3 linked regions of the Homo sapiens genome follow. The protein of the gene in region 3 purifies or fractionates together with the protein of the main gene of each other region. This does not show direct contact. Each region holds a gene or a part of one and is shown on either strand. Other genes may lie near its edges.

The links. The genes of interacting proteins can lie anywhere in the genome.
Region 1: the proteins of MAGEE1 (region 3) and KIDINS220 purify together in Homo sapiens (affinity purification with mass spectrometry; 2 studies listed by BioGRID and IntAct, with this or other methods). This does not show direct contact.
Region 2: the proteins of MAGEE1 (region 3) and YLPM1 purify together in Homo sapiens (affinity purification with mass spectrometry; 2 studies listed by BioGRID and IntAct, with this or other methods). This does not show direct contact.

What each region holds. Positions count from the first base shown.
Region 1 is NC_000002.12:8,834,549-8,841,841, forward strand, and holds the start of KIDINS220 (kinase D-interacting substrate of 220 kDa), read right to left. Parts: upstream 3,066-7,293; 5' UTR 2,932-3,065; intron 1-2,931. UniProt on the Homo sapiens protein: Promotes a prolonged MAP-kinase signaling by neurotrophins through activation of a Rap1-dependent mechanism. Provides a docking site for the CRKL-C3G complex, resulting in Rap1-dependent sustained ERK activation.
Region 2 is NC_000014.9:74,779,909-74,787,380, reverse strand, and holds part of YLPM1 (YLP motif-containing protein 1), read right to left. Parts: intron 6,977-7,472; coding exon 6,797-6,976; intron 6,048-6,796; coding exon 5,056-6,047; intron 1-5,055. UniProt on the Homo sapiens protein: Plays a role in the reduction of telomerase activity during differentiation of embryonic stem cells by binding to the core promoter of TERT and controlling its down-regulation.
Region 3 is NC_000023.11:76,423,542-76,431,045, reverse strand, and holds the start of MAGEE1 (melanoma-associated antigen E1), read right to left. Parts: upstream 3,337-7,504; 5' UTR 3,116-3,336; coding exon 242-3,115; 3' UTR 1-241. UniProt on the Homo sapiens protein: May enhance ubiquitin ligase activity of RING-type zinc finger-containing E3 ubiquitin-protein ligases. Proposed to act through recruitment and/or stabilization of the Ubl-conjugating enzyme (E2) at the E3:substrate complex.

The sequences.
Region 1 (7,293 bases), on a different chromosome or scaffold from region 3:
ACATACTTTGTTTTTGGTCTGCTTCCCCTAGCCAAACAAATGTAGCTCAATGAGAATAAAGACTATCTGTTTTGTTTACTGCTGAATCTCCAGCACTTAAGAGAAGTGCCTGGTACACCACAGAACCCAGTATCGGTAGAATGAATGGACATGCCCAAGCTGATCCAACCACCTGTAATGCCTGACCCAACTTTAACATTCTTAACAAGCCAAAACACACCCTTCAAAACCCCCCTCGCGGGTCACCTATAAACTAACTTATGTATGTATATGTATGTATGTATGTATGTATTTAGTTATTTATTTTTATTGAGACAGGGTCTGGCTCTATTGCCCAGGATGGAGTGCAGTGGCACATTCATAGCTCACTGCAGACTCAAACTCCTGGACTCAAGCGATCCTCCTGCCTCACCCTCCCTGAATAGCTGGGACTACAGGTGCATGCCAACACACCCAGATCATTGTTTACATTTTTAATTTTTGTAGAGACAGGACTTGCTATATTGCCGAGGCTGCTCTTGAACTCCTAGCCTGAAGTGATCCTCCTGCCTTAGCCTCCCAAAGCACTGAGATTACAGGTGTGAGCCTGCATGCCCAGCCTTGAACTAATTTATTAAGGGCTGTCTCTCTCCTTCATTCTTACATCCCCAGAACCTATTACAGATCTAGAACAGGTAGAAACTTAATAGATAACCATCAAATTAAATAACTGCATAGGTATGCTAAAGATACCTCTTCTGAAGGACTTTGCCCACCCACAGCCCCTGCTACCCTCAACAGCCATGTTCTCTAGCATCAGCCATTCCCAGGGATGGGCATATGATCTGTGGCATGAAACTGTTGAAAAAGATAAGCTGGGCCAATCAGACTTCTCTCTCTAGAACTGGGAATTAGAAACCAGAGACTGGGCCAATCAATATGGGTCACACATAAAATGATACAGTTCTGAGACAGCCAATCAGCAAAGAGAGAATACAACAGATATGAACAGAAAAGAGACTCCTCCTAAGTAAGAGAACAAATGTGGCCCCTAAGAGGAGGTCAGGGCTGCAGTGAGCCAAGATCACACCACCTGCACTCCAGCCTGGGCAACAGAGCCAGACCCTGTCTCAAAAAAAAAAAAAAAAAAAAAAAGTTGCCCCAGGGAGATGTAGAAAATGGAGGTACCTGGGATCCTGACTTCTTTCTGACTCTCATTCAATCCTATTATCTCCTTTTCCTTGAAGTAAAAGGTTTAAGTTTCTACTGTCTTCTAAACAGCCCTGACAAATACAGTAGCACATAAAATGGAGAAACTGACCGTTCTTGAGCAAAAGCAGGAAGAAGGGGATGGCACATTCATACATGATCCTATAAAAATTAATCTGGCAGTGTATGTGACCCAGACTGGAAAAATACAAAGAATCAGGGCCCTAGATACCAGTCAAGGAATCACCAGACAGTACACAAGAGAGGCAGTGGGAATAGAGAAGAAATGAGGGATATTAACTTGAAAAATATAAAATCCCTGACATTTGAACTTTCTGAACTACCAAAATATCCAGAAGAGATATTCTGGATATAAAGATAAAACTATGTGACTGGTTGGAAAAGAAAACAGGTGGAAGATGACCAGATGCCCAGCATAGGTGACTGAAGAATGGAGCTGCCCTTAACCAAAAAAAAAAAAGCAGGAGAAAGAGCAGACTTTTCTCTACTTAAGTTATGCCTCCTCCCTTCCACCACCCCAGCTGGGCGAATGGGGCTTTGGCCAGGCTGAATTTGAAGTGTCCCAAAAGAACTAGGTTGGAGAAACCCACCCAATACTTGGAAAAAGATACCGTTCACACTGTGTGTGAATGATCTGGAAATTATTCACACAAAGGGTGTAGAACAAGGATTCTCAAACTTGTGTGCACCAAAATTATTTGGGAAGCTTGTCAAATACACATATCCCTTGAGCTCCTCCCCGGGAGAATCCCATTCCCTAGATCTGGGGTGGTGCCCAGAAACTGACATTTTAACAAGCACCCCAAAATGATTCTGATGAAAGTAGTCCATGCTAGTAAAGCTAGAAGAGAACAAAGAACACACCTGGCCACGGCATTTCCCAACCTGGGCTCTGCACTCAATACCCCACGGTGGTTTAAAAAGGTGTAGATGTCTGGTCCTCAGTGTTGTCAAAATGTGGACAGGAACGAACCTGAAGGGGTGATTCCCGAGCCACACCTCAGGCCGAAGGAATGGGAATCTCTAAAACGCTAAGAAATCTACATTTTTAACAAGCGCCCATAGGGAGCAGAGATGGCTGCATAGTTATTCATAAAAAAATTTTTCATCGGTTTAAACCTGTCAACTTGAAAGAATAAAAATTCCAACATTACAAAGTGATGAAGAAATTATTTCCCTATAAATAAATCTTGGAGGCGTGGAAATCAATGGCTTGCACTATTTTGCCAGGCGTTTAAAAGCCTGCACAGGACAATGGAGCAATGGAGCCCACGATAAAAGCAAGGGAGAAAACAACACCTCCCGGCCCGTGGAAGCCTAGGAGGAGGAACCTAGAAAGACTAGCGGTACCAGCTAAGGGGGCTCTCAAGGTGGTGGATGTGCCAGAGGCTGCTTGGCAAAAGAAAAAAAACGGTTTTACCAACACCCTTCACCCCAACCCACCCGAGGGGCCCCTCAGGAGACAGACCACCAGAGACTCCAAGGTCGGAGACCTTCCCGGCGCTCCAGGAAACGCGGACTCGCCCCGAAAGCCGGGGCCCGAGCGTCCGGGGCCCGCGCCATGCCCTCCCCGGGACCCCCGGTCCGAGCTCGCCCCTTCCGCGCACTCCTCGGCTGTCCCACCTCCCCGCCCGACTCCCCGAGCCCGGCCTCGCCCCCGACTCCTCCCCAATCCCGCGGCAAAGCTTCGCGGACCGGCCTCCACACTGACGGTCTCCCAACCTGGTCCTCAGCTCCGGCGGAACGGGCCCGCTCGGCTGCAGGCGATGTCAGAGGACGGGGAAGCAAGAGACGGCGACTGCAAGCGCGTCGCCCTCACCACACCCGGCGGCCATATTCTTCCCTCTCCGCGAACTGACAGATCACGTGCCCTGGGTAGGGGAGGGACTCCGGGTTGCCACGCCCCCTGGGCGTGGAGGGGAGGGGCGGGGCGGGGCGTAGAGCAGGCGGGGCTGGAGGGGCCGCGGGGCGGGGACACCCAGGACAAGCGCCCCAGGCAAGGTTTTTCAGTGTCAATGTCACTCTTATTACAGTTAATTTATTATCCCTATTTTCCATTATAATCAAGCTTATTCAGAGAAATAAACATCAATTATATCTTCAGAAGAAACTGCACATACATAAGAAATGAAAGCCCGCTCAGCAGCCTTCTTCCGGATCCAGGAGCGAGACCTCTGCCTTTCGCGGGGCCTGTAGTTCACACTCCTTCCAGGTCTCCCAGCACCTCCCCTCACCTCCTTCAGCCTCCACATTCCTAGGCCTTGCTGCCAACAAGCGTCAATCTTGATTTTTGAAAAGGTCCAAGGATGATTACGACGTGCGTAGGTTGCGAACCATCGAAAAGCACCCACCAATGTGTCAACCTGGCAACTCAGGAAAAAGCCAATAAGGAGCCTGACTTCATCAGAAGTTGGTGCGGGGTGGGGACAATGGCTCACTCCTGTAATCCCAGCATTTTGGGAGGCCAAGACGGAGGATCACTTGAGCTCAGGAGTTTGAAACCAGCCTGGGCAACATGGAGAGACCTCTTCTCTACAAAAAAAAAAAAAAAAAAAAAAAATACAAAAATACAAAACTTAGCCAGGCGTGGTGTTGCACACCTGTAGTCCCAGCCACTTAGGAGACAGAGGTGAGAGGATCACTTGAGCCCAGGAGTTCGAGGCTGCAGTGAGCTGAGATCACACCACTGCACTTCAGCCAGGGCAACAGGGCAAGATCCTATCTCCAAACAAACAAACAAACAAACAAAAACGGAAGTTGGTGTGCCCCTCATGAAACAAGGAGCGAACACCCCAACGTGTACAGTGGAGTCCTAAATGGTGTGATTTCTTCGATAATGACTTGCTAAGGCCAGCCACTGTTGTAAACAGGGCAGGGTGGGTCAGGCGTTGGGGGTTAGAAGTATGGTAGGTGTATTAGCCCGTTTTCACACTGCTATAAAGAACCACCTGAGACAGGGTAATTTATAAAGAAAAGAGGTTTAATTGACTCACAGTTCTGCATGGCTGGAGAAGCCTCAGGAAACTTAAAATCATGGCGGAAAGGGAAGCAAACACGTCCTTCGTCACATGGCTGCAGGAAGAGAGGTGCCCAGCAAAAGGGTCAAAAGCCCCTTTTACATCCAACAGATCTCGTGAGAATTCACTCACTATCACGAGAACAGCACGGGGGAAACCGCTGACGTGATCCAATCACCCCCGACCAAGTCCCTCCCTTGACACGTGGGGATTATGGGGAATACAATTCGAGATGAGATTTGGGTGGGGTCACAGAGCCAAACCATATCAGTAGGATATAAGGATGAAGCCAACCTTAGAGTAGGGGAGAAGACAAGGAAACAGGTTAAATGTGCGTTATTTAGCACAGCCTTTCTGAGTCCTGACCATGTCCTAGGCACAGTGCAGTAAGGAGGTAAGCACAGAGGATGGAGTTACCAACTCTGCTTGGGGTCCACTAGGAAGGTTCACAAAAGAAGGGACCCCCCCCCCCCGCACCTCCAGCTGTATCTGAAGTATAGTTTGTCCATCACATCAGTTGGATGGGGCTAGGAAGAATGTCCAGGTCGGGGAACAACACTTTGGAAAAGAATAGAGATGAGAAGGAGGGTGGCCCAAAGTTCCAGGAACTGTCAATATTTGCCAGCCTTGGGGCTGGGGTGGCAGCATGGGAGGGGGCAGTAGATGGAGCAGGGGTCAGCCTCTGAAGGGCCTTGAGTGTTAAGTACCATTTGGGAATTTGTTCTAGGGAAATAGAAGGCCACTGAAGGGATTAGAAGAGTATCAAATTTGTCCTATGGAAATAGAAGGCTGCCTCCCCCAGCATCCACTACCCTTCCCACCACCCCCCAACCCCATCTTTCCTCAGCCTCCAGCTGTTTCCCTCAATCCCCTCCATCCTCCTCTTATCCTCTCACTGCTTCCTCCACCCTCTGCCCCCACATCCTCCCCCAACTCTCCCCACACCCCTCTTCCTCCCATCCCCCCCTCTGTCCTCCCGTCTTCCTCCAGCCACCCAAGCCTCTCCAATCCTCCCACCACTTCCCCTAGTCCTCCTTCTGTCCTCCCTCATCCTCTTCCCTCCCTCTCTTGGTAGCACAGTTTAGCACTCCCTCCTGGAAATATTTCTTTTTTTTTTTTTTGGAGACAGAGTCTCGTTCTGTTGCCCAGGCTGGAGTGCAGTGGTGCGATCTCAACTCACTGCAAGCTCTACCTCCCGGATTCACGCCATTCTCCTGCCTCAGCCTCCCGAGTAGCTGGGACTACAGGCGCCCGCCACCGCGGTCGGTTAATTTTTTGTATATTTAGTAGAGACGGGGTTTCATCGTGTTAGCCAGGATGGTCTCGATCTCCTGACCTCATGATCCGCCCGCCTCAGCCTCCCAAAGTGCTGGGATTACAGGCGTGAGCCACCGCGCCCGGCCCCCTCCTGGAAATATTTCTTCTCCTGGGCTTCTATCCCATTCTTCTGGCAGCTCCTTCTCAGATTCCACCTCCCATGAATTGTTGGGGTTGCAGAGTTCTGTCCCCACTGGACTCACCCATACCCCTCCCACCCACCCTTGCTCCTGCGTCACTAGTTTCAGAGACCTGGCTCCAACCCTAACCACCAAAACCGGAAGTTGGAAGTCATCTTCCCCCTGATTAAATGGTCAGTTAATCAGCCCATCACCTGACTGTAGCCACTTTCATCCCAGTGATCTGTTTAAAGGCCTCAGAGCTCCCAACCGGGACTATCCGAATACCCCCAGCAACTCTCCCTGCTAACCCAGTAGCCCTGCTAACCATTTCTCCACAAGCTTGCCAGCTAATGCCACTTCTTTCATTAAACTCTTCAGTGGCCTTCTGTTTCCCCAGAACAAATTCCCAAATGGTACTTAACACTCGAGGCTCTTCAGAGGCTGGCCCTGCTCTGTTTCCTGCCCCCTCCCACGCTGCTACTCCCACCCCAAGGCTGGTAAATATTGACAGTTCCTGGAACTTTGAGCCGTGCTCCTTCTCATCTCCATTCTTTTCCAAAGTGATGTTCTCCAACCTGGACATTCTTCCTAGCCTCATCCAACCGAATGTGATGGGCAAATTCTATTTAAGATACAGCAGAGGGGGTCACCTCTTTTGTGAACCTTCCTAGTGGACCCCCACAGAGTTGGCCATTTCATTCTCCGTGCTTATCTTCGTACTGCACAGTGCCTGGGACAGTGTCAGGACTCAGAAAGGCTGTGTTAAAGAAGGCACATTTAATCTCTGTCCTTGTTCTCTCCCCGACTCTAAGGTCGACTTCATCCTTATATCCCACCATACCTCCGACACCCCCTCCTCCACCCCGCCCTGTTTACAAGAGTGGCTGCCCTTAGCAAAGCCATTACCAAAGAAATCACACCATTTAGGTCTTCATTGTATGTGTGGGGGTATTCTCTCCTTGTTTCATGAGGGTATGAACCCAAAATATCTGAGACAGTCTCAGTCAATTAAGAAAGTTTATTTTGCCAATGCTAAGGAGCACCCGTGACATACTCTCAGGCAGTCCTAAGGACATGTGCCCAGGGGGATCAGGGTACAGCTTGCTTTTAAACATGTTAGGGATGCATAACACATCAATCCATACATGTAAGATTTACATTGGTTCCATCTGGAAGGGCGGGACAGCTGGAAGGGAGGGGGTGCTTCCAGGTCATAGGTAGATTTAAAATTTCTCTGATTGGCAATTGGTTGAAAGAGTTATTATCAGTAGAAAGGGGTTTACTTTCTACTTTTTAAGACTTTACTTTTTAAGTCCAAGGTTTTATTAAGCAGGTGAAGCCGCCAAGTATCAGGCTTCAGAGAGAATAGACTGTCAATGTTTCTTATCAGACTTTATGTCTACATTGATGTTAATGCTGGAGGGATATAAAGAGGCCTGACTCCCTCTTCCATCATGGCCTGAACTAGATGTTAAGGTTAACTCTGGAATGCCCTTGGCAGAGAAGAGGGGTCCATGCAGACGGTTGGGAGGCCTTAGGATTTTATTTTTGGCTTACAAGCGTCACGTCAACTTCTGATGAAGCCGTCCATGCTCCTCGCTGACAACTTCTGATGAAGCCGTCCATGC
Region 2 (7,472 bases), on a different chromosome or scaffold from region 3:
ATGTTGGCCACGCTGGTCTCAAACTCCTGACCTCAAGTGATCTGCCCGCGTCAGCCTCCCAAAGTGCTGGGATTACAGGCATGAGCCACTGTACCCAGCATGCAGCGTTTACATTCAAGTGCTCATTAAGAAAATAAAAAGTCCTGCAGTGAGAAATTTGTAATACATATAATGGATAAAAAACTGATGTGTAGAATTCACAAAGAACTCCTACAAAATCAGTAAGACATAAAACCTAGTCAAAAAATGGGAAAAAGACTTGAATCAGCATTTCATAAAAGAGGAAATACAAATTAACAATAATCAAATAAAAAAAGTGAAACCTCATTAGTCATCAGGGAAATGTAAATTAAATCCATTATCATGATACCACTAAACATCCACTAGGATTGCTAAACCTTAAAAGTTTAACAATACCAAGTGTTGATAAGGATGCAAAAAAACTGAAACACTGAAACACTGCTGGTGAGAATATAAACTGAAACAACCACTTTGGAAAAATGTTTAACAATACCCATTAACGCAGAACATGTATATACTCTATAATCAGGCAATTCCAATCCTTAATAGATATCCAAACAAAATTAAACACACACAAACAAACACATACATCTAAAGGGACACATACAGCATCAAAAGACACACAGCAGCACTTTTCATAATAACCAAAAAACTTCAATGACCATTAATATTAAAATGGATAAACAGATTGTGTTATATTCATACAATGAACTATTGTACAGGAACGGGAATAAACTACTACTACACACAACATGGATGACTCTCACAATAATACAATGTCAAGTGAAAGATGCCAGACTCATGAGTACATACAGTATTATTTCACTCACATGAAGTTCAAAAATAGGCAAAACTAATCTATGGCTCAGTATAGCAGTTATCTTTGGGGTATTAGAAAATAACTGAGGGGGATGAGGGAGATTTCTTGGGCACCAGTAATTCCTATTTCTTGATCTAGTAGTGATACCATGTGTGCCTTTTTTTTTTTTTTTTTTTTTGAGACGGAGTCTCACTCTGTCACCCAGGATGGAGTAGAGTGGCACGATCTTGGCTCACTGCAACCTCCGCCTCCCGGGTTCAAGCAATTCTCCTGCCTCAGCCTCCCAAGTAGCTGGGACTACAGGCGCATGTTACCATGCCAGCTAATTTTAGTATTTTTTAGTAGAGATGGGGTTTCACCATATTGACCAGGCTGGTCTCGAACTCTTAACCTCATGATCCGCTCCCCCCTCAGCCTCCCAAAGTGCTGGGATTACAGGCATGAGCAACCGCACCTGGCCAATGTGTGTCTTTATTTTGTGAAAATTCACTAAGCTGAACACTTAAAATTGTGCACTTCTCTGTTACGTTTCAATAAGTTTTATTATATGTGAAAAAAAAGGTCCTGGAAAACCAACATCCATTGATATGACAGTTTTCTGGACCAACGGTAGTCTTCTGGAAGACTGAGTGAATCCAATGATATACACAGTGTCAAAACAGCTCCCCTAGACTCTCAACAATGTGATATGTTATTTACATGTCATGCAGTTTTGTCACATGACTTTTTAGAAATCTCGTTTTTATAAAGCAGCTTAAATCTGGATTTTGCAAAAACTCAAAGCCATTTACAGTACTTTATTTGTAACAGCATGTTATCAGTAAATTTGTTTAGTTGTGTTCTAAACTCTTGTTTTTCTAATCAGCTTTGATTATTTAAAAAAAGTGGCTTCTCATATCAGTTATATGTTTGATAGCAAAATCTGAATTAGAAATACAAGAAGTTCACAGGTTTCCTTAATAGTATAGATTATTCTTACCTCAGTCTTGTTCACTCACTAACCAGCTTCCCACTGATTTTTTACCTAGTTACACTGGAGAAAAAGAACTATGCCTGGGTAACAGTCCCAAACTATACTCTATAAGGGCTGAGTGAGCAAAAGCAGCAGGGGGTGACTGAAATGGCAATGACATAAGCTAGTTAGGGGAAACGTTTTCAAAACAAGGTGGATAATGTGAGTAGGATCCAATTCAAGGATTAAAAAGCCATCCTTATCAAAGCTGCAGATGAAAATGCTGAAGAGGGATATCACATACCTAAAACAATATAATCATCATTGACCAAGATTTCAGCAGACTGAAATGATGGTGCAAACCTAACTAGAAAACAATCTAAAGAGAAATGTAAAGTCTTAGAAAAAGGAACAAGAAAAACAAAAACAAAAAACCAACCACACAAGTTCAGGATAAGAGAGACTTGGCTTAATAAAAGCTAATGTGAAAAAGACCTGGGAAGCTAGATTGATGTTAAGTTCAACAAGAGTCAACACTGTGAGAGTGCTGAAAAAAACAAACAAAAAAGCAATTTGTTAAGCTATACAATATAAGCACATTATTTATAATGAAGTTGGTACTAGGCCCATGCTCCTCTGCATCTGAAGTAAGTGTTCATTCTGAAGGAGACTAACAAACTAAAGGCCCTTCAAAGGACAGTGAGCAGTACAGCAGGATGAGGTTAGAAACAATGTTAAGATGAAAAGAATCTGAGTTGTGATTGGCAGAGCAAACTGGGTGAGGTAGGGTGAGGGAGACATGAGGGTAATAGTTTTTAAATAACTGTAGTGACATGCTGTAGAAGAGGCATAGGATAATTCATTCTGTGTTGCTCCAGAGGCAAATCTAGAATCAACAGATAAAAGTTAAAGAATCACATTTAGGTTCAATGTAAAAAACAAACTTTCTAGAATCAATGCCTTATATGGCAGTGTTCCTAATCACAATGCCAATGTTAAGCATACAACTGCTCATCACAGAAAGTACAATGGACTTAAAGTGGGTCAGAAGTCCTTGGATTCTAATCTCATCTTGACCATTTACTAGCTGTGTTATATGAGGCAAGGTATTTACAACCTCTCTGAATCTCAGCTTTTCTTATGTATTTATTTACCTCCTGATATCACTAAGAGGAATAAATAAGATGATATGTGCAAGACTCATTGTGACAAACTGAAATGGAATACAAACGTGCGTTGCCGTAGACAGATATATTAGATAATTGCTAATATCCTCCCAGCACAGAGATTATTAACTTGAGAAGTTATTTTCTTCTGAAGACAAAACTTAAAATAGGTCCTAAATTCACACAGCCAAGATTTAGTAGGCAAAGAGAGAAAATATTAACATGACGGAAATCAAGGGAGCAGGAAATGTATGTTTCATGAGGTGTTAAGAATGTACTTCTCTGATAGCAAATTAGTTACCAGATCTAAAAGGCAATGCTCATTCCAGGAGATTAAGAACGAATTCAAATCAAGATGATACACATGCCAAATAAGCACTGACAGTATAGGCTTGAATCATGGCAGTAAACAGAGCTTAAATAGTACTTTTGCTTTGGGGACCCTCTAGACTCAACTGTACCTATTCTGGGGTTCTACTCACTCTGCTAAATAATCCTGACTGAGCAAGTTACGCAGTCCTCTCAGTGCCATTTTGTTAAGAGTAAATGGAGAATAATCTGCCTACTTCACAGGTTGTTGAGAAGACTTCCATGAGATAATAATGTGTGTAAAGTCTCTAGCAAGGCTTCTTGGTACACAGAGGAATTCATGTTAATTGCCCTTTCTCTTAACTTTGATTGTGGATGGAGTTTTGTGCCACACTGCTTTCAGAATTATAAGCTTGGGGAATAAAAGATATATTTTGTTTTCAAATGTTAAAATGAGGTTGAAAAAAATGATGATGTAGATCCACTGATACTGAGATGAAAATCTAAGCAATACGCAGATTGGTGGAAAAATAAGTTATAAGATAATCTACTCAGTATGATCCCATTTCTGCAACATATATTTTTAAAATGATTCTCTCCAGATGGTGGAATTAGGTGACTTTCACTTTTTTCTACACTTTTCTGTAATGTTTGAATTTTGTATAAGGAGTACCCATTTCTACTACAATTCCCAACTGAGAAAAAAACTGATTAAAGTATTTTTCTGGCTGAGCGTGGTGGCTCACACCTGTAATCCCAGCACTTTGGGAGGCCACGGCAGGCAGGGAGGCCAAGGCAGGAGGATCGCTTGAGCCCAGGAGTTTGAGACCAGCCTGGTCAACATAGGAAGATCCCCATCTCTACGAAGTATTTTTTAAAAACTGGCCAGATGTGTTGGTGCGCACCTCTGGTCCCAGCCACCTGGGAGGCTGAGGTGGGAGGACTGCTTGAACCCAGGAGGAAGAGGCTGCACTGAGCCATAATTCTATCACTGCACACTAGCCTGGGTGAAAAACCGAGACCCTGTCTCAAAAAATAATAATAATTTCCATAGAAAAGTTATCATTTAGGTCAACTTGGGGAGAAAAATCTATTTTTACAAACTTGGAAAAAATGAATTTAACAGTTTTTAGAAGGTAAAGAGAAAAAACTTACACACCAGCAATTTTTTTTCTTTCTAAATATGTTGTTCAGGATAAACAGAAGTATCTCCTTAACTGGGGAAAATATAAAGGATGTAAGCTCCATGGGGGCAGGAATTTTATGTGTTCTGCTATATTCACTGCTCTAAGTACAAGAGCAGGAACTTAAATATTTGCTGAATGGATAAAATAAAAGTCCTACTTACCTTATGCTAAATTTCACTGCCTCAAGCCAGTAGAATATTGGCTTATTCATCTTTATCTCTAACAACTAACAAATTATCTAACAAATAGTAATTGCCAATTCAATTATTTGTCAAATGAATGAAAAAGCAAACAAAAGATAAAGTTTAATATTATTTTTAAAGCTAATAAGTCAATACAAAATGATTAGCATTACTCTACAATACTACATTCATTCTGGATTATAATCTCTACATATAGGACAAAAGCAGAGACATCAAAGAAATGGGGGCATGTTACCTTTTCTAGATTACATACGTGATGTCTTAACAAGCAGACAATATAAGTACAAAGAGAGTATAAACATTGTATAAATGAAGCTTTTTATACCATCGAGAACCAAATAGCCTAAGTCAATAAAATAGCCAAACCAAAAAAAAAGAGAAAAAAAAGCAGACCTACCTTGGGCCTCTTGGACTTTCCAAGTAACTACTTCTAGGAGGATCTGGAAGCAGGCCACCTGATCTCACTGGCATGTCCTTCACTGCAGTGATTGGCTGAGATGGAGCAGCTGAAGACTCCCCAAGTCCTTGATCAGATGAGAATGAACTGTATGGCAGAGCAGACTTGCTCAAAGGAGCTTTTGAATTCACTTGTTCTGATGGACCAGCTGATTGCAACGGAGGATGGTAAGTTGTCGGTGGGGCAGAACCAAAAGACACAGGAGTAGGAAGCAGTGCTGGTCTAGGTTTCTCTGGAACTTGCGAGCTCTGTGAACTGGAGGCTGGTGGAACTGGGGCTGCTGTTAACTGAGGAGGTATCCCTTGTGGAACTCCAGGGGGAGGTATTCCTGGAGGAGGTGTAGCTGAAGACAATGGTGGGAGGGGCATGACAGGTGGAGGTGCTGTTGAAGAGAGAGATGGTGGGGGAAGAACTGGTGGTGGCCCTGCAGAAGACAGGGAAGGTGGGGGGAGAACTGGTGGTGGCCCTGCAGAAGAGAGAGAAGGAGGCATCCCTGGTGGGGGAACAGAGGTTGGTAGAGAAGGTGGCATAACAGGTGGGGGCATGCCAGGTGGTGGCACTGTAGCAGGGAGGGCAGGGGGCATCACTGGTGGTGGCAATGAAGGAGGCAACACTGGAGGGGGCATTGTAGGTAGAGGTGGAGGCATCTGAGAATATGGAACAAAAGGAGGTGGCATTGACATGTTCCCCATATACTGGTTCTTCATGTTCTGAAATGAATTGACTTTCTCCTGGAGATAGCTCTGAGTGGCTTTCATATGTCCCTGCCATGTTTTCCACTGCTTCTCATACTCCTGAAGCTGATCTTTATGAGGATAGGAATGGAGTTGTTCCTCCCATAGCTGAAACTCTCGCTCCCATTCTTGGTAAAGATGTTGAAACTGTTGCTGCTGCATCTCATAATGCCGCAGCTGCATATCTACAGACATGGTCTACAAATAAAGGGATAAAAACTATTTAAAACCATTCATATAAGATAATTAATCATAGGTTAAAATATTAATGAATCAAGGGCATTTGACGCTTTAGGAAATTAGAACACTAAAGACTTTGGGAGGCTAAGAATAAGTTCGTTAAGTTCTTTGAGTGATGATCATTCTTCTTCCTTCCTTTGGCTTAGACAACTTACTACAGAGTTGGAAAAACCAACCAAACAATAAAGCAAATACCTATCTTAGCAATAAGTATTTTTCAAGTTTTTAATATGGATAATTTCAAGAACTTGAAAAATGATCTGTTATTATAGATATACAGACACAACATTACCCCTCAAAGATACAACACAAACAAGTATCTAAGTCACTTTATCTTTTACGGTATATTTGCTTAGGTTTTTTGTGATGGCTGTTTTTGGCCTCTTTGCTTATCTGTTACTGTTGTAGTTTACAGGCAAAACACAGGTTAACCTGTAGCTATATGGTAAAAATCCCCAGCTCTTAAGACCCTTAGCAATAGTAAGCTAACATCTGGCCTGGGTTGACATGATCAGGAAACTCTACTATAACCAACCCCTCCCCAGTCCCCCAGGTAATGTGGCAGATAACTACTTGGGCACCCCTTGGGAAACAACTAATTGTCAACAGTTGGTATCTTTTGTTTTTTACACTTAAATCTTTCAAGAATAACAAATCCTTTCAATGTCTTGGGGCAACTTCCTATTGTGGACTATGGAAGCACTTGCCTGTATATGTGGTGGGGGCTGTATAATCTGCTGATACTGTTGTAGAATCTGCTGTAACTGAGTGTGCTTCTGCATTATTCCCTGATACTGGAAACCGACTCGATGCTGCTGGTGCTGCTGCCAGTGTGCTGCTGCAGCCTGCAACTGCTTTAACCTGGCATCTTCTTCTGGGTCCTCAGACTAAAGATAAAAGAGGACACATCTTTATGTAAGTCATAAAACAGCAAGCAAAAATATTTTATAAATGTATTATAAAGTCCAGAATCCCTACAACTCAGAAATATCCAACTGTCAAACACAGTATCTTCAGTTCTTTTTGGATTGAGAACAGCTATTCTATCTTTAGATAAAACACATAGCTCTATCTATACTATTATGGATACTAATACAAAGGAGTTTATAAATTCCATAGTCTTCACTGGAATAATAATCTTATTATTCCTAAATATGACAACAATTTTCCCAGTGGAAAGTGGTCCCAGGCCGGGCACCATGGCTCACACCTGTAATCCCAGAACTTTGGGAGGCCAAGGCGGGTGGATCACTTGAAGTCAGGAGTCCAAGACCAGCCTGGTCAACATGGTGAAACCCCGTCTCTACTAAAAATACAAAAATTAGCCAGGCATGGTGGCAGGTACCTGTAATCTCACCTACTTGGGAGGCTGAGGCCGGAGAA
Region 3 (7,504 bases):
AAACTCATACCAAAATACAACAGAGACAGCAAGTGGTCAATCACATTTACCCAATCAGACAATATATTAAAACAGTTGAAACATTTCCAGACACCACACCAGAACTAAATATGAAAAGACATAAATATAACTGGAACACAAATACCAAATACAATATGTACCCACCCCCACCCCCCAATACATGAGAACTGAGGCTCAAAGGCCCCTCCTTGCAAGGCCCCTCTGACTGCCATGCATTCCTCTACCTGAAGTTGTGAACAAAGATTTGCCTGTGCCCAACATCAGCTCTATTGGCCTCATCTTCCATTGCCTCCCTGTACTGCTGTGGCCAGTCCTGTGGTTCCTTTCTGTGGATTCTGGCCACATATCGCAAGGCTTTCATCTTAGAGGTTTCCAAACGGGCTCTAGGACCCCATACAAACTCATATTGCACTGGATCACTGTCAGGAACCCGTAAACTGTCTATATAGCGCTGACTCAAGTATCTGCAGGTAATCACATGCTTTCTCCCAGCTTGAACCCCTAAGCCCCGCAGAAAGGCCCAGACTGCAGACTCCCTGGCATGGTTGCCCATAATAAAGATGAAGCTTAGGACCTGCATCAAAAAGTTGTTGCCAGGCCTGTTTGGACTGTCTACGATCTCCTCAGTTTCTTCCATCTCCCTTCGGTTGTACAGAGTATAGGAGTGATTCCTGGGATCAAGTACCACTAGTTCTGTCCCATAGACATGGTTCAGGGTGCGGGCAGCACGATTCAGGAGGTCAGGGAACACTTTGCTGCACTCTCGGCCAATGTAGTACAGAATTCCTTTCTTTGGTATAGGCAGCTTAGTTGAATCCATAAGCAGAAATAACTGCACCAGCTTCCTTGCCTTGCTCTCCAATCTTGACTCAGGCCATGAATGTGGGGCATATTTTGAGGAATAGCTGGAAACCTCTGAATCAGGGGATGGTACCTCTGCAGCAGCTTCCTCAAAAAAGGGCCTCCTAAAGTGAGGGAGAGCCTGCCAACCCTCAGCAAAGGCTCTGGCAGCATCTTCTTCCAGAGCTTCGTTGTATTTCTCTGGCCAATCCATAGGATCTTTGTTATATATTTTCGCCATGAACTTCAGAATTTTCATCTTGGTGGTTTCTAGGTGGGATCTTGGGCCCCAGAAAAACTCATACTCCACTGGTTTACAGTCAGTTACTGGCCTGTAGTCTAAGTAACGCTGCCATACAAACTCCACAGACAGAAGTCTCTTTGGGTTCCCAAAAATGGAAAGCCTCCTTTCCCGCTGCACCCCCATCCTCCAGAGCATTTCCCAAATCTCAGCCTCCTTGGCTTGGTTGCCATTCAGGAATATTTGGCCTAGAATCATCATCAGGAGGCCCATCTTTGGCCCATTTGGGCTCTCTTCTAACCCTTCAAAGGGCACAGGTCCCAGTTTGTTTAACAGAATGTAGGTGTGTGCCTCAGGGTCAAGTTCTCTCAATTCAAACCTAAAAATGCACTCCAGGTGGGCTGCTGCTCGCCTGAGTATCTCAGGAAACTGGTTGCGATATTCTTTAACAATATATTCCCGCATTTCAGACTCCCGGATAGGGTACTTGCTCTGATCCTTCACCAGCAGGAACTGCAACAGCTCAGCTACGTTCTGTTCCATAGGGTCTTGGGGCTTCAGGGTAATTGCAACCCGGGAAGTATTGAGGCCCATAATACTAATGGAGTTGGGGCTCTCACAGTCTCTCAGGACCTCGAATTCTATAGGGCCTTCTGCACCCTTAGGACCCTCAGAATCTGAGTCCACGGAGGCCTTGGTTACCCTAGGGCTTGGCAAAACAAGGGAACACTTGGAGGGGTTCCGGTCCACAGAAGCACTAGAGCTAAACAATGTGCTCGGGCCCTCACCAGGGTTAGGCAGCACGGAGCTTCCCGGTCCGTCAGGGGCGGTGGGCTGCACTAAGGTGCTTGCGCCCTCACCAGGAGTGGGCGGCACGGAGGTGTCCGATCCATCAGAGGCGGTGGGCGGCACAGAGGTGCTCAGTCCCTCACCGGGGATTGGCAGTACGGAAGTGCTTGGTCCCTCACCGGGAGTGGGCGGCACGGAGGTGCTCAACTCCTCAGTGGCGGTGGGCGGCACGGAGGTGCTCAGTCCCCCACCAGGGGTGGGCGGCACGGAGGTGCTCGATCCCTCACCAGCAGTGGGCTGCACGGAGGTGCTCAGGCCCTCGGTGGCGGTGGGGGGCACGGAGGTGCTTGATCCCTTACCGCGGGTGGGCACCAAGGAGATGCTTTGTCCGTCAGAGGCGGCGGGCAGCACGGAGGTGCTCGGTCCCTCACCAGGAGTGGCCGGCACGGAGGTGCTCGGTCCCTCATCACGGGTGGGTGGCACGGGGGTGCTTAGGCCCTCAGTGGCGGTGGGCGGCACGGAGGTGCTCGGTCCCTCATCAGGAGTGGCCTGCACGGAGGTGCTCAGGCCCTCAGTGGCGGCGAGCGGCACGGAGGTGCCTGGTCCCTCACCAGGTGTAGGCAGCACGGAGGTGCTTGGTCCCTCATCAGGGGTGGGCACCACGGAGGTGCTTGGTCCCTCATAGGCTGTGGGCGGCACGGAGGTGCTCGTTCCCTCACCAGGGGTGGGCGGCAGGGAGGTGCTCGGTACCTCAGAGGCGGTGGGCGGCACGGAGGTGCTAGGTTCCTCAGAGGAAGTGGGCGGCCTGGAGGTGTTCCGGCCCTCAGAGGCGGCAAGCGTCACAGAGGTGCACAGCCCCTTAGAGATGGTGGGAGGCCCGGAGGTGCTTAGGCCCTCACTGGGGGTGGGCAGCACGGAGGTGCCAGGTCCCTCAGAGATGGTGGGCTGCCCGGAGGCGCTTGAGGCCTCAGAGATGGTGGGCGGCACAAAGGTGCTTGGGCCCTCAGCGGAGGTGGGCAGAACGGAGGTGCTTGGGCCCTCAGAGGCGCAGAGGCCCTGGAGGATCTGGGAATCGCTGGGACCCTGGGGGACGTCTGAGCCTGGCACATCAGCGGGGAGACCGGGGGCATTAGGGGCCTGCATTTCGCCCCAGCTGCTGTTGTGCGCAGTAGCCTTTGCAACGCGGCGGCGGCGGCGGCGCGAATTCTGGCTTACCAGAGACATGGTCCTGCCCACCGGCGTTGGCGTGTAGGAGCAGACACCGACAGGCCCGCGATCTGGCAGAGAGGACGGGAGGTGTGTAGGTGCCTCGGCACAAAACTGCCGCTAGCGGTAATGATGTTGCTGCTGCTGCCAGAACCAAAGTTCCAAGCAACTGCTGAAGCTGAAATTAGAGGTGGTGAAAAAGGCAGGCACTGGCCAGCAGTGAATGCTAGTCTCACTGTACTCTGCTTCTCACACCCCGCCCTCTGCCGCAGTCCGCGCAGGCGCAGACTGGCTCTGCGGCAAGGCGAAATCGCCCCGCCCCGCCCCTCCCCTGGGCCTGAGAAAGTGGATGCGGTGGTTCTGCACCAAAGGAGAGCACTAGCAGAAGGGAAACTTTGGTAGGGTGAAGCAAGGAGCTTAGAGTAGATGCATTAGGGAGTAAAAATGGAAATAATAATAAATACTTCTCAGATTTAGGGTACGATTGGAGGGCTTCTACACAGAGTGCCAGGCACTTAATAGATTCTCAAAATTGGTAAATATCATTGAGATTTGCAGTTTTCCCGAAGCTGTTTCAAAGAAAATGTGCATTGTCTCTGGAAGGGTAGAACCCCCATCCCTGACCATGTCTCTTCTATCACTTTCTCCATTTATGTGTCTAACTCCTCCCCTAATGTTGTGAGCTAGAAAGAACTCTTTCCTAGAGGGTCTGAATGCCTGAAATTTAGTACCAATTAGGGAGCTTCGAACACGCTTGAAAAGCCCAACATTCCCAGCCCAAACTTTCCCAGTCACCCAGGCTTTAGTGGGAAAGCCACTAAAACTCTTGAAAATTTGTTTAATTCTTTCACTCCACAATCACCTGCTCATTTAATAGAGCTTTTGTGAAAGTCAGTTGAGATACCGAGTGTTAAGGGATGTGTTACCTGCTCTGTTTTGCTCTATTACTCTAGCACTTTTGAGCAGATCCAACCCTGATCCCTTTATTCATTCACTCAACAAACACTGGTCATCTATCCCGAAGTTACAGTTAATCTCTTTGTCATCAAGGAGCACCCGATGTAAAAATGGGAGTCAGAGAAAAAGTAAAGCTAAATTTTCTAGAAGTTTGTAAAGAATGCAGGGGATGGCAGGGTCAGTTCTACCTGTAGATGCAGAAAAGGCTTCATAAAAGAGGAGATGTTTAAAAAGATGAGTGGGTAGATATTTACCAAAAGGACAAGGATGAGAAAATCATTCCAACTGAGAGTAGCACGGCAGCAGTGAGTAAGAAAGAAAACACTGAAGAGGACGGGCAGGCTGTTTTTAGAAGTAGGGGAGAGAGAGAGAGGAAGAGAGATAGAGGGAAAACACTAACTTTCTGACACTCACACAACCACTACAATTCAGCTTACCACTATTGACCCTTTATTGATATGTTTATATCTTGCTGCAAACATTTATTATATGTTGTCTTTCTTTATATCTTCTCAAAAATCTGGGAGTATACTTTTGTCTTTTTTTCTTTTTTTTTATACTTTAAGTTTTGGGGTACATGTGCAGAATGTGCAGATTTGTTACCTAGGTATACACGTGCCATGGTGGTTTGCTGCACCCATCAACCCATCATCTACATTAGGTATTTCTCCTAATGCTATCCCTCCCCTATCTCCCCACCTCTTGACAGGCCCTGGTGTGTGATGTTCCCCTCCCTGTGTCCATGTGTTGTAATTGTTCAATTCCCACTTATGAGTGAGAACGTGTGGTGTTTGGTTTCCTGTTCTTGTGTTAATTTTCTGAGAATGATGGTTTCCAGCTTCATCCATGCCCCTGCAAAGGACATGAACTCATCCTTTTTTATTGCATAGTATTCCATGGTGTATATGTGCCATGTTTTCTTTATCCAGTCTGTCATTGATGGGCATTTGGGTTGGTTCCAATACTTTTTTTTAATACGTCTTTAGGAAAGGGAAAATAACTGGCTACAGTCACAATGTGTCACCATCTCTGTCTCCAATTGGAGAAGCAATCCCTTATATGAATAACCAGTTTCGGTTCTGTGAAGTCCAATGCAGTTTTTATGCCTGGGGCCTATTCAGAATGGGAGGCACAAAAAAACCTAAGATATTTCTAAGCTTTAGCAACAGATATTCCTAACCTAGGGTACAGTGATTTTTAAAGACCCTGAAGTTGTTCAAACCTATAAACTAAAAATTTTTACCTCTAGAAATATATTCTAAAGAAATAATAAGATATATGTGCAAATATTTAGCTAAAATAACTTTTATTATATAATTTGTTCTAGTATAACAGAGCTGAAAACTAAATGAATGTTAAATAACTAAAGAGTATTTGAAGAAATTATGGTACTAAAAATGGAATACCAGTAAGTCATTATAATGATATCAAAGAATTCCATTTCTAATAATGTATAGTTGATTGCAGCAGCCCTGCGGAAAAAAAACCCCAGAAATTTAGGTAAAGAAACCCTTTTATGGCAACAAAGGCTACCAATATAGCATCAGAAACCTATAAAGGCAATGAGGACTTCAAGAGTAATGATCTCAGAAAAAAGGGAAGTGCAAAGAGGTGAGTCTTACATTGTATACAAGTTTGTCACTTAAGGAATTTAATGATTTGTAAGCTGATAATTTGGAATTCTGAACTTACTGAAATAGTACATCAAAAATGAAGGCAAAATAAATACATGTTCAGAAATCAGTGCTGAGTAAATTGATCACCAGTACACCCACACTGAGGAAATACTGAAAGGTTCTCCTCTGAAACTGAAGAGATGCAAGAAGCGAACAGTAATAGAAAGGATAAATATGTGGGTAAACAGACATATTGACAATGTAAAACAATAATAATAATATGTTTTGTGTAATTTATATGTAGAATTAAAATATAGGAAACAAGTGAGTGCAAGAGATTTGGGGACTGATCAAGAAAAATATATACTACCACACGTTTTCAGTAACACACAATGAGTTTTTGTTGTTTGTCTGTTTTAGAATTTCAACTTTTATTTTAGATTCTGGGGATACATACACAGGTTTGTTATATGGGTATATTGCATGATGCTGAGGTTTGGAAAACAGATGATCTCATCACCCAGGTAGTGAGCATAATACTCAACAGTTTTTCAACCCATGACCCCCTTTCTTCTTCCCCCTTCTAATAGTCCTCCAGTGTCTGTTTTTGCCACCTTTATGTTGATGAGTACCCAATCTTTAGCTCCAACTTATAAATGAGAACATATGGTATTTGGTTTTCTGTTTCTGTGTAAATTCGCTTAGGATAATGGCCTTCAGCTGCATCCATGTTGCTGCAAAGGACATTATTTCATTAGTTTTTATGGCTGTGTTGTATTCCATGGTATATATGTACCACATTTTCTTTAGCAAATATCAGTGATAGACACCTAAGTTGACTCCATGTCATTGCTCTTGTTAATAAGGCTGCAAACAACTATGAGTGTATGTGTCTTTTTGGTTGAATGATTTCTTTTCTTCTGGATATATGCCCGATAATGTGATTACTGAATTGAATGGTAGTTGTGTTTTATGTTCTTTGAGAAATCTCCAAACTGCTTTCTATAGTGGTTGAACTATATATAGTGTTTATTATTACTAATTTACATTCCCACCAACAGTGTATAAGCATACGAGTTTCATTTGGTCAACCCTTTGACAGGTTTGCAAGGGCATGGGGTTAATCAAAGTCTGAGATCTTCCAGAGGCTGGTGGGAGGTCACAACCTAGAAAATGAGAGGACAAGCTAACTGGAGAGAGGGAGGGGAATCAAAGAGATGGCTTATACATGTAGCGATGTCTCTCAGCAGCAAGACAGGGAGTTGCTGGGTCAGAGATCTCTGAAGGGCAGCAGTAGGTTAGGGTTTTTATCTCCTGGAGTTTATCCTATCTATAGCTAACAGATGATTGTAGTTTCACAGGGACATGCAAAGAAGGCAGCCTCTAAATGGCTAACAATCTACTTATTGGTCTATATTTAAAACAATTGATGTGTAAAAAATTGAGTTTGGTACTGGCAGAATCAATATATAGAGACTATCTTTGGCTCATGCATATAACAGTCCATCCCCTGGCCCAATGTTGTCTTATAATTAAAATTGTATGTTATTTTGCAGTGCCTAAGTTTCTTGCCAGAAATAAAGGAGACAGAATCCTATAAGGGTACAAACAAGGATTTCAAAACCCTTTCATAGCCAATCTGCCCACGTAATGGAGGAAAGCCAGGGGAATCGATTAGAAAAAGGAGCAGATTTTAATTTGTTCAATTGTTCAGTCAGTAGAGTGACATTATAACCCCTTTGCTACATGTTCCTGTCTATCCATAATGCTAGAATCAGATTGGCAGAAGCAAGTCCAACATGCAGTTAAATTTGTCATTATATGTGTTTCTGTG